4 separate regions of the Homo sapiens genome follow, and all the other regions are linked to region 4. Evidence: fine-mapped expression QTL. A gene starts in region 4. Each other region holds a variant in brackets. All regions are shown on one strand. Distances are from middle to middle.

What was found. PIP is the estimated chance that this variant, and not a neighbour inherited with it, causes the effect.
Region 1: its variant is fine-mapped to the expression of MYO1G in whole blood (TOPMed, PIP above 0.99).
Region 2: its variant is fine-mapped to the expression of MYO1G in whole blood (INTERVAL, PIP above 0.99).
Region 3: its variant is fine-mapped to the expression of MYO1G in whole blood (TOPMed, PIP 0.97).

What each region holds. Positions count from the first base shown.
Region 1 is chr7:44,948,165-44,950,851 of GRCh38, reverse strand. No RefSeq gene overlaps it. Among named protein-coding and RNA genes, the nearest start is that of MYO1G, 30 kb to the left of the region's middle. The variant G/A (reference allele first, on the strand shown) is at 1,101.
Region 2 is chr7:45,034,622-45,037,308 of GRCh38, reverse strand. The region is part of intron 1 of CCM2 (CCM2 scaffold protein); the gene reads right to left. Among named protein-coding and RNA genes, the nearest start is that of CCM2, 36 kb to the right of the region's middle. The variant C/T (reference allele first, on the strand shown) is at 1,396.
Region 3 is chr7:45,127,336-45,130,022 of GRCh38, reverse strand. No RefSeq gene overlaps it. Among named protein-coding and RNA genes, the nearest start is that of TBRG4, 17 kb to the right of the region's middle. The variant G/A (reference allele first, on the strand shown) is at 1,216.
Region 4 is chr7:44,977,654-44,980,340 of GRCh38, reverse strand. MYO1G (myosin IG) reads left to right here and starts at 1,326. Exons shown (of 22, transcript NM_033054.3): 1 at 1,326-1,474. The coding sequence starts at 1,380. RefSeq lists enhancers at 944-993, 1,024-1,093 and a silencer at 1,294-1,383.

The DNA of each region.
Region 1 (2,687 bases), 29 kb after region 4:
TACGTATAGCAGCATTATTCACAATAGTTAAAAAGTGGAAGCAAGCCAAGTGTCCATTGATGGATGAATGGACCAACAAAATGTGGTATATACACGCAGTGGAATATTATTCAGCCTTAAAAAGGATGAATATTCTGACACATGCTACAATATGGATGAACCCTGAGGACATTATGCTAAGTGAAATAAGCCAGTCACAAAAAGAAATCCTGTCTGATTCCACTTATATGAGGAACCTGGAGTCATCAAATTAATACAGACAGAAAGTAGAATGGTGGCTGCCAGGGGCTGGGGGAAGGGAAATGGGGAGTTAGTGTTTAATGGGGACAGAAATTCAGTTTGGGAAGATGAAAAAGTTCTGGAGATGGATGTAGTGATTGCACATCAATGTGAATGTACTTAACACCACTGAACTGTGCACTTGAAAATTGTTAAGATGCTAATTTTTTTTTGAGACAGGGCTTGTCCTGTTGCCCAGGCTGGAGTGCAGTGACAGAATCATAGCTTATTGTAACCTTGAATTTCCAGGCTCATGTGATCTTCCTGCCTCAGCCTTCTCAGTAGCTGGGAGTACAGATGAGCACCACCACACCTGGCTAATTTTTAAATTTTTTGTGGAGATGGGGTCTCGCTATGTTGCCCAGGCTTGCCTTGAACTCCTGGTCTCAAGAGATCCTCCTCCTCAGCCTCCCAAAGTGCTGGGATTACAGGTGTGAGCCACAGTGCCAATTACTAGCTTCCTAGATTGTCACTAGAGATAGCACCTGGCTTCCTGCAAGTTTGACTTATAGCAGGTTGGCACCCCAGGCTGGTTACTGTAGATAAAAGAGGTTGTGGCTGGGCTCGGTGCCTCACGCCTGCAATCCCAGAACTTTGGGAGGTTGAGGCAGGTGGATCACTTGCACCCAGGAGTTCAAGACCAGTCTGGCCAACATGGTGAAACCCCATCTCTACTAAAAATACAAAAATTAGCCGGGCATGGTGGCGGACGCCTGTAATCCCAGATACTCAGGAGGCTGAGGCAGGAGAATTGATTGAACCCGGGAGGCGGAGGTTGCAGTGAGCCGAGATCGCGCCACTGAACTCCAGCCTGGGCAACA[G/A]AGTAAGACTCTGTCTCAGAAAAAAAAAGAAAATGTTGTTTTCCTGGGTAGGTGGCTGCAGGCTGTACTTCAGAGTTCTAGTTGTACAAATGGGCTGGTTGTCCATTTTGTATACAACTCCACACTCACAATACATTGGTGATTTGCATTATACATTTGTCTGATAGGTTTGGGTTAGTATGAGTTACTCCCCCAAAGTCTGACCAACTCTGCAAATACTCAGGACAAGTTCCAGAAATGACAAGAAACAGCCTAGGATCTGGTAATGAGATCCAGGTGTCAGAGAAGGGGCCTTATTGGAATAGACACCAATCTCTCTGAAAACCGTCACATGATTTCTCTTTAGAATTTTAATATTCATAGCAAATTAGGGGGAAATGTGCCTGTCAGATGACACAGGTCTTTGAATCTGATTAGACAGTAAAATATAAAAACAGTGGCCGGGTGCAGTGGCTCACTCCTGTAATCCCAGCACTTTGGGAGGCCAAGGAGGGCAGATCACGGGGTCAGCTGTTCAAGACCATCCTGGCCAACATGGTGAAACCCTGTCTCTACTAAAAATACAAAAAATACCTGGGTGTGGTGCCGGGCACCTGTAATCTCAGCTATTCAGGAAGCTGAGGCAGGAGAATCATTTGAACCAGGGAGCTGGAGCTTGTAGTGAGCCGAGATCACACCATTGCCCTCCAGCCTGGGTGACAGGGCGAGACTCTGTCTCAAAAAAAGAAAAAAAAAACAGTGACAGATTTCGAATTGGATTATTTATTCAAATTAGAGCTCTGTTTCTTGTTTTGGGGTTAGTATTAGGTTTCAGGATAAATTTAGTGCTAGAGTTGGCACCGGGCTTAGGGTTATTAAAATGAGCATTAGGACTAGAGTTGTTTTTAGTTGACGAGTTGGGGTTAGAATTAGAATTAGAGTAAGGGTTTACATAGGAGTTTTGTTAATCCAGGGTTTGCTTAATGATAGAGTTAATATGAGGGTAAAGATTAGTGCTGAGGTTTAGTGATACTATTAACAGTTAAATTGAAGGTTAACGACAGTGTTGGAGTTAGGATTAGAGTTGGCAATTTGATGAAGTTCATGACTATAATAAGGTAATATTTGGGGTTAGTTCAAATATTAGAGTTAGAATTAGTATTGGGTTAGGGCTAAATTTGGTGTTAGAGTTAAATTTGGATTAGTTTTGGCAATATGATTATATTTATGATTATGGTTAGGCTTAATATTTGGTTGGTATGAGGATTACCTTTAGACTTAGGGTTGGAGTTAAGGATATCGTTAGTGTTTAGGTTAATGGGGTAGAGTTGAGGTAAAGTTGATTCTCAGAGCTGGAGTTAGTTAGGGTTACAGTTAGTTTAGGGTTAGATTTAAGGTTAGGGTTAGTTTTGGGTTTGAAGTTCAGGTTAGGATTAAATTACATTTGGGTTAGGCTTAGTGTTAGGGTTTAGAATTAATGCTAATTTGGGGATTGGGTGTGGTTAGAGTATTGTTAGTGACAGATTATGTTAAATTCAGAATTAGGATTAGAGTGTGGATGTGGGTTATTGTTATAATTAGGATAAAGTTTATTAGTAGAGCTATTTG
Region 2 (2,687 bases), 57 kb before region 4:
CCTTAAAGAGTGAGAATCAGTGAGAGAGCAAGAGAGGATTACAGCAAGCCTCGCCTGCAGAACCCAGGAAAAGACCTGACACTTCATTCACAATAACTCCGTAAGAAAGCTTTTCATCACCACCTTTGACAATGGCGGCGGGGGGTGGGGGTCTGGGGGGAAGCAATCCCAAATTGTGCTGAGAGATCATGCTACAATCCCTATCTACAGTCACCCAAAGGAACATAAACCCGAGAAAACAAGACACTGATGTGCAGCCGCAGCAAGGAAACATCACGCAGGCCTGCAAAAACCAGAGCCGTGACTAAGAGTGAGAACTTATTCCCCACCATCTCCTCCATAACTCTCAACAGAGGAAACGCAGGAGGAGATGACAACACTCCTTTTGCAGGTGCCTGCCAGGATAGGGTGACCCAGTGCACAGATGGCAGCCGAAACCCCCACAGTAGGCCAAGCTCAGACCCCCCTTATCACCAAACACAGAAACTAACAAAACATATATACAATAAACCACCAAACTTTCATTAAAAGCTCTCATTTCTGTCTCTCTCCAGCATATGGGAAATTCACCCATATGCAAAATCCAATATAAAACGGTGTAGCAGAACCTGTGGTCCTATAAGGACACCTCCTCAAACCCACCAATTTCACAGACAATTGCAGCCAAGGACTACACTATTCAGTAACCACTCCTGAAAAAAGCAGAAATTGGTCGTCCAGTGGCTCCCAGCAGGCCCTGCAGCTGCCTCCCTAATGAGGCTGGGGTTGGACCCTGCCCTGTATGAGCCCCTCCCCACCACCACCATCATGCTCAGCTCTCCAGCATTAGCGGGAAAAGTAAATAAGCAAACAAAAGCCACCCCAAATAAAACAAATCCTCAAAGAGCAAAACCCAACATTTTTCCTGACCCTGCTGCCTCCTGACAGCCAAGGCTGAGCTTTCTGCTCCTCAGCTTCCTTCTTACCTTTATTTATTTCACCCTTTCATAGCTGGGTTTTTATTCCATTCACCCACTAAAACAGACATGGAATCAGGAAGCTCTTTCAATAAAAACGAAAACAAAAAACACAACAGAAAGTCTTGCTTCCAGAGAAGTGCACTAACGCTGCCACCACGCCTCTGTCACTCTGTCCCCTGTGTTTCCTGCATCTCACGCACCCTTTGCCAGCTCTCTTTCTTCTACCAGTAAAGATAGATGTTCCTCAGGTCCTAGGCATGATCTCTGCTCCGGCATGCATTGGGCTGCACCACTTACTAAGCAAACTGGTTGGATGAGCTCTCACCATCTGCACAACAGGCTAACAATCCTTAGAGAAGTGCCACAGGCAATCAATACAATAATCTACATAAAGTTCTGAGCACGTCTGATATGTTGTGAACAAGCAAAATATATA[C/T]CAGTTAATTTTATGACTGTATTTACCTTGACAATAAGTTAAAATTTATCTCTTCTTCCACTGCTGTCTATACATATATATATATATGTATATATGTATATAATCAGACTGTCTCCTACTCATCACTACCACAGACTATAATAAAGTTGGACCAGCATCACAGCCTAAGCTCTTCATTCGTGCCCCCAACAGGTGACACACCTGTGACCCAGGCTTAAAGCCCTATAATCTGCTAAAATGCTTCCTCTCTCACTTGGGCTGACTGGACCCACCCCTGCATCCGCCTTCTTCACCTGGAATAGCTCCCCTTGCCCGACCTGGAATAGTCTTCCCTTGACCCAGAGTGGTTCCCCATTGACCTGGAGTAGTCCCTCATCTACCTGAACTAGTCCTCTCATAGACCCAGAGTAGTTCCCCGTTGACCAGGAGTAGTCTCTCCCCTTTGACCTGGAATAGGCCCCCTCCCAGGTCCCATTCTCTGCTGCTCAGTACATCCGGTGGTAGGGGAGAGCATGGAGTAAGGATGACTAAAGGTCCTCAGAGTTGGTAACAGTTGGAGCCAGATGATGTATACAGTAGCTTTGTTAACTTTTCTCTGTATTTTTTTAATATTTGAATTTTTAAATATTTTTTGAAAATGATGAATATATTTTCTGCTTCCTGCTGATTACACTTAAACTGAGGCAAAATATAAAAGCATAAAAAATTAAGATCACCAACATCCTTACAAGATGATCCGCTCTAAGACGAACCACAGAGGGGACAGAAAGTGCTCCCAGGCTGGGTGCAGCGGCTCACGCCTATAATCCCAACACTTTTGGGAGGCCGAGGTGGGTAGATTGTTGAGCTCAGGGATTCAAGACCAGCCCGGCAACCTGGTGGGACCCCATCTCTACAAAAACTACAAAAATTAGCCAGGTGTGGTGGTTCACGCATGTAGTACCAGCTACTTGGGAGGCTGAGGCAGGAGGTTGCTTGAGCCCGGTAGGTCAAGGCTGCGGTAAGCTGTGATCATGCCATTGCACTCCAGCCTGGGCAACAGAGTGAGACCTTGTCTCAAGAAAAATAAAAACTTTTTAAAAATGCTTCCAGAAGCTGGGTGCAGTGGCTCACACCTGTAATCCCAGCACTTTGGGAGGGTGAGGCAGGCAGATCACTTGAGGTCAGGAGTTAAGAGACCAGCCTGGCCAAGATGGTGAAACTCCGTCTCTACTAAAAATAACAAAAATTAGCTGGGTGTGGTGGCGGGCGCCTGTAATCCCAGCTACTTGGGAGGCTGAGGCAGGAGAATT
Region 3 (2,687 bases), 150 kb before region 4:
AGGAGGGGCTGAGCCGGCTGGAAGGGGGTCAGGCTGTGGCAGGGCCTAGCCTCTGTGGGACTTGAGACGTCAGAGTTAGAGCAGAGCTGGGGAGTAGGGGCCAGGGACAGAGGGTCTTTGGGACCCCTGGGGGCAGCCAAGACAGCGGGTAAATCAGGGGCTCCAGGTGTGTGCCACTTCATGCCAGCAGCCCACACAACCATGTGTCCCTAAGCTTGGTTCAACATTCTGCTCTTATGCCTTGAAATCCTTAATTTCACCTGTCAACATATGTGCTAGTAAGTGAAGTCTGGTGGGACAATGGAACAAACACACATGTGACCCACATGTGCAGCAGGCCTGGCCATCCCATGTGCACAGGTCCCAGAAAGGCACAGACGGAGTGGGGCCCTGGCTTCCCGACAGGCTGGAGCCACAGAAGGATGCGACGGGTCTCTGAGAAACACGAGCAGCCCAGGAGCCCTGCCGGCCCTTTCCTGCCTGCCTTATTCCCGTAGGAGCCAGCCAGTTACTCTGAAAAGGACAGCACAGCAGGAAAGGGGAAGACAGTAGCCAAGTGCCTTCCTTGCTTGTCCGGTAGCCAGAGAAGGAGAGCCTTGGCAGGGCATGTACATGTCAACAGGTGAAATCACCAGTGCTCACAGCGGTACTCCTCACGGGGGCCAAAAGGTGGAGACAGCCCAATGTCCATCAATAGATGAATGGACCAACAGAGTGTGTGCATGCACACCAAGGAATACTATGGTACATAAACAGGGTGAAGCACCGACACGTGCTACAACATGATGAACCTCAGCAGCCACGCTCCGTGAGATAAGTCAGGCACAGCAGGTCACACGTTCTATGATTTCATCTCCATGAAATGTCCAGAATAGGCAAATCCACAGAGACAGAAAGTCAATTGGCAGTTGCCAGAGGCTGGGGACGGAAGGAAATAGAAAGTAACTGATAGTGGGTACTAGGTTTCTTTTTAGGGTGATGGAATGTTCTGGAATTAGAGGTGGAGGTTGTATGACGTTTTGGATGTACTAAAAAACACTCAATTGTACACTTTACAATTGGGGGTGAATCTGACGGCATGTGAATTACATCTCAATAAAAAATTAAAATAGGGCTGGGTGCGGTGGCTCATGCCTGTAATCCCAGCACTTTGGGAGGCCGAGGTAGGCGGATCACTTGAGGTCAGGAGTTCAAGACCAGCCTGGCCAACATGGC[G/A]AAGCCCCATCTCTACTAAAAATACAAAAAAATCAGCCGGGCTTGGTGGCAAGCACCTGTAGTCCCACTACTCAGGAGACTGAGGCATGAGAATCGCTTAAACCCAGGAGGCAGAGGTTGCAGTGAGCCGGAGTTGTGCCACAGCACTCCAGCCTGGGTGACAGAGCAAGACTCTGTCTCAAAAAAAAAAAAAAATTAAATTAAATTAAATATTTTTATCTTATTAAAATAAGATAAAAATAAAGAATGCAACTTTTTATCCTTATTAATATACAAGTTCATATAGATATGAATGGCCATAAGAGGCAAAGCAGACCTAGGGTGCTAAGAGTGTCTGGCCACAACATTGGTTACAGCAGGTTTGATGTAATGGAGGGAAAGTTTAATCTGACACATTCAGTCAACCAGTTCCTTGTGTCAGAAGAGTAAAACTGCTTAAGAGGAAGCTGTTTCCTCAGAACAACAGATGGATCCAAAAATATTAAATAAAAAGAAATGAGAAAAAAATAAGTGGAACAAAACCAGTTGAGTTAGTTTTGTGCAGCGTTTGCACTGTTGTATATGTGTGCCCATGTGAGCTACAAGGTAAGAATTGTGTGATTGGGTGATTCTGCCTAAGAGCTCAATGCTCTTGTGTTTGCCTTTGAATTGGCATTGTACAACATAAAAATGACTGCTGATACTCATGTTCATAATAAGAAATTTTTATTTTCATTTACTTAAATTGACACATTGTGAAAAGCATCATGACAAGTACAGAGAGACTGTGGAAGAGAAAAATACTTTTTTATTCTAGTACCTTTACCAGTACTTTTTTTCCATTTGTTGAACAAGGTGCCCTGAAAATGGCATAGCTAGCTCTGGGGGCACCCTGTGGAGATGGGAAATGCTGGTGAAGGAAGTGCCCCTCTGTGCTGTCAAGGAAGAAGGGACTAGGTGTGGGGTGGGGGGCAGGGGGAGGGCGCTCACAGTGTGAGTCTGTGGCCAGGGATCTGAGTTCTTGGGATGGATGGGTCAGCTCTCACCTCAGACCCAGCATCGGCGACAGAAGGACTCAGATCTTCTAGCCAAATCCACTCATGATGTAGGTAGGAACGGACAGAGACAGAGAAAAGGGCCACCAAGGCCTGCCAGTAAACAATCACGGCCTTGCCACCTTCACTTCCCCAAGCCCTGGACTCCACCAGGTCTCTGGTGTGTGTGTAGCTCCCTTCCCGGGAAGGTGGAACAGCCTACGTGAAGCATTGGGTAAACTTCAAGCCATGGAGAGGCACAAGAGGTGGCAAGTCACCATGGCCAGAGTGTCCATGCTGGCTACCCCAGGAAGGGCCTGGGTTGAGGCCCACTGCTTTGCAGAGGGACTATAAGGGCCGTGATGGAGCCATGTCATGCCATGGGCACGTACAGGAGGCACATTACAGCTCCGCCAAAGTAGCAGGACATTCTGGGCTGGAACATCCCGATGTTCAGTA
Region 4 (2,687 bases):
ATAAGTACTTTCAGTTTTATCAGGAATGCATTTGCTTTAAGGTATTCGAGAGAAAAAAATAAACTTAACTTGCCTATCCATTACTTCAAAGTTTAAAAAATGGGATGACTGAAAGACAATAGTTAAACTAGTGCTTATGAGTACAACAAATCTCAAAGGCAGCACATGAATGACTGAAGTTTGGGAATTCTGGAGTCTGCCCTTTGACCTCCCTGTATGAGGGAAGGGGTGAAAGAGAAATGTCACCAGTCTATTTGTAGGATGAGAGAGAACTGCATCCATTTGACCTTTGATGAGAGAATCGCCCCAGTGTTCCTAGAGGATGGGTGTGACCTGCCCCAGTCTGTCCTGGGATGAAAAAGAACTTTTTCCAGTCTGCCTGGAAGCTAAGAGAACTGCACCCCTCCCACTTCTTCCAGGAGCACTAAGTGTCAGGAATGCAGTGTCTGGAGATTTTGGCCACTCCCTAAATGCAGCCGCTCCCCAAATGCGCTGCCTCATCTTCAAAGTGCAGGGACAGCAGCTCTGAGATGAGGCCACAGGGCTCCAGGCATGTTCCTGGTCCTCACTGCAGTTTATGGGGGATCGGCTGGACACAAGTACAAGGCAGAGGACAGTTAGGGGCACAGGGGTCCCACTGAAGGCCAGCCCCATGCAGAGGATGCTCTGGGGTCCTCTGTCCCTCCCCCGTGGCTGGGGTGGGGAATTGCAGTGCTAGGACCACTGGCCCTTGGCAGGTCACACAAGAAGCTTTGCTCGTCTACACCCCAGTGTGGCCTTCACACTGCAAAGAAGGCTGTTGCCCCCACCCCAAAGGCCTGGGCATTAGGATCCTTTTTCATTTTTGTATTAATGTACAATGTACATACAGTATATTGCATCTAGTGTTCAGTTCTGACTTGAGAGACACACACAGCCAGGTAACCAAGATCACGTCAAAAAATCTTTCTTTAAAGTCCCACAAGTGACTCTAACGTGCTGCCAGGGTTGGAAGCCAACCCACGGAGTCTTGTCTCCTGCTTGTGGGTGGAGGGGAGCTTCCGAAGGAGGCCAGCGAAGAACCCTCCAAAGCGGGGAGGACCCAGCATCCGGCCCCTCGCCCCTGGCGTGCAAACGGGTCAGACCGTTAGGCACAGCCTCCTTGTGGGGCGCAGGGACAGGAAGCAGGGTTTAGAGCACCTCGAGGGGGAAGGAGTGGCAAGTGCGGAGGGCAGCCCCTCCCAGGACTAGAACCCACTTCCTACTTTACACCAGCACTGGAGGAGGCTGGTGGGGCAGGGCGGGGGCGGTGGGGCCTCCCCTAGCCTTCCCTCCCCCTCTCCTTCACTGTCCTTCCAGCAGGCACAGGAAGGTGAGGCAAGGTGTTTCCAGCCGGCAGGATGGAGGACGAGGAAGGCCCTGAGTATGGCAAACCTGACTTTGTGCTTTTGGACCAAGTGACCATGGAGGACTTCATGAGGAACCTGCAGCTCAGGTAGGCCCAGGGCAGGAGGCAGTGGCTCCCCTCCTCCAGGGTCTCCCACCTTGCGTCCTCGCAGAGACCTGAGGGAAAGAGGAAGGCACGCTGCTGTCCAAGGGAGGGGGCAGTGGCACACACCCACCCAGACCAGATGGGGCTGAAATGAGTGCCTCAAAGCACGGCCCCAGGGGACAGGAACAGACAAGGAGGCAACTGTCCCTGTCAGGGCTGGCAAGTCAGCACCGGAGCTGCCCACCACCTCAACCCACCCCTGCCTCCCACACAGTCCAGGCATCTTCTGCCCCTTCTTTCCTGCCCGACGGGGCCAGGGCATGACACTTCTTGGACAGATACATACCAGGCACTATCTTTCCAGGAGGGACCAGGGGCACCTCCCTCCAGCCACTTCCCAGCCAGTTGTTGATGCTCCCTCGATGCATCTCATCCATGGGGCCTGGCCTGAGCCCTGGGGACACTGAGATGAAGCAGTCAGGCTCCACCCTAGGGTCCAAACATTCCCACCAAGTTGAGGTGACATTCTCCTGGGGTACATGGAGTATCACAGGACACAGTTGGTAGAAGTGATATTGGAGCCCAATTTACCATCAAGGAGGGCAGGTGGAGGGCAGGGAGAAGCCCGGGAGGTAGGGGCATGGCACAGTAGGGTGGCCATACAGGCAGCTGGGCTTCCTGCCAGGACTCCCAGGGAGGGGCAGAAGGCCACTCGCTGTGTACTCCGGAAGCTCCCTGGGGAGAGCTTGGGGACCAGGATCCCCACTAAGCACCGAAGGCAAGAGACCACGAGCCTGGCTCAAAGAGGAGGGCTAGCCAGGACGTGAGCTAAGCACTTTGTGCACATTGTTCTACCTCATTCTTATAAAATGAGCTTATGAAACATTGTCCTCTCTATTTTGATGAGGAGAACACTGAGCCCTGGAGACGTGGGTGACTTGTGCCCTCATCCCCAGCTTGTAGGAGGATGGGAGCTAGGCCCAGGAAAACCCATGTCAGAGGTGGTGGAGAAAGAGGAACCTCAGGACAGGCCCACCCAGGACAGGCTGCCGGGAGACAGGGCCATCCAGGGAAGGGTGGGTACCACACACCAAGGGGAGATGGGTCTGAGGGGCAGGCCTGCCAGTCCTCCTCCCAGGGGCAGAAAGGTCAAGAGAAGGGCAGACATCCACCCCCACTGGGGACCAGGTTTGTGAAGGAAAGGGTCAAGAAGTCT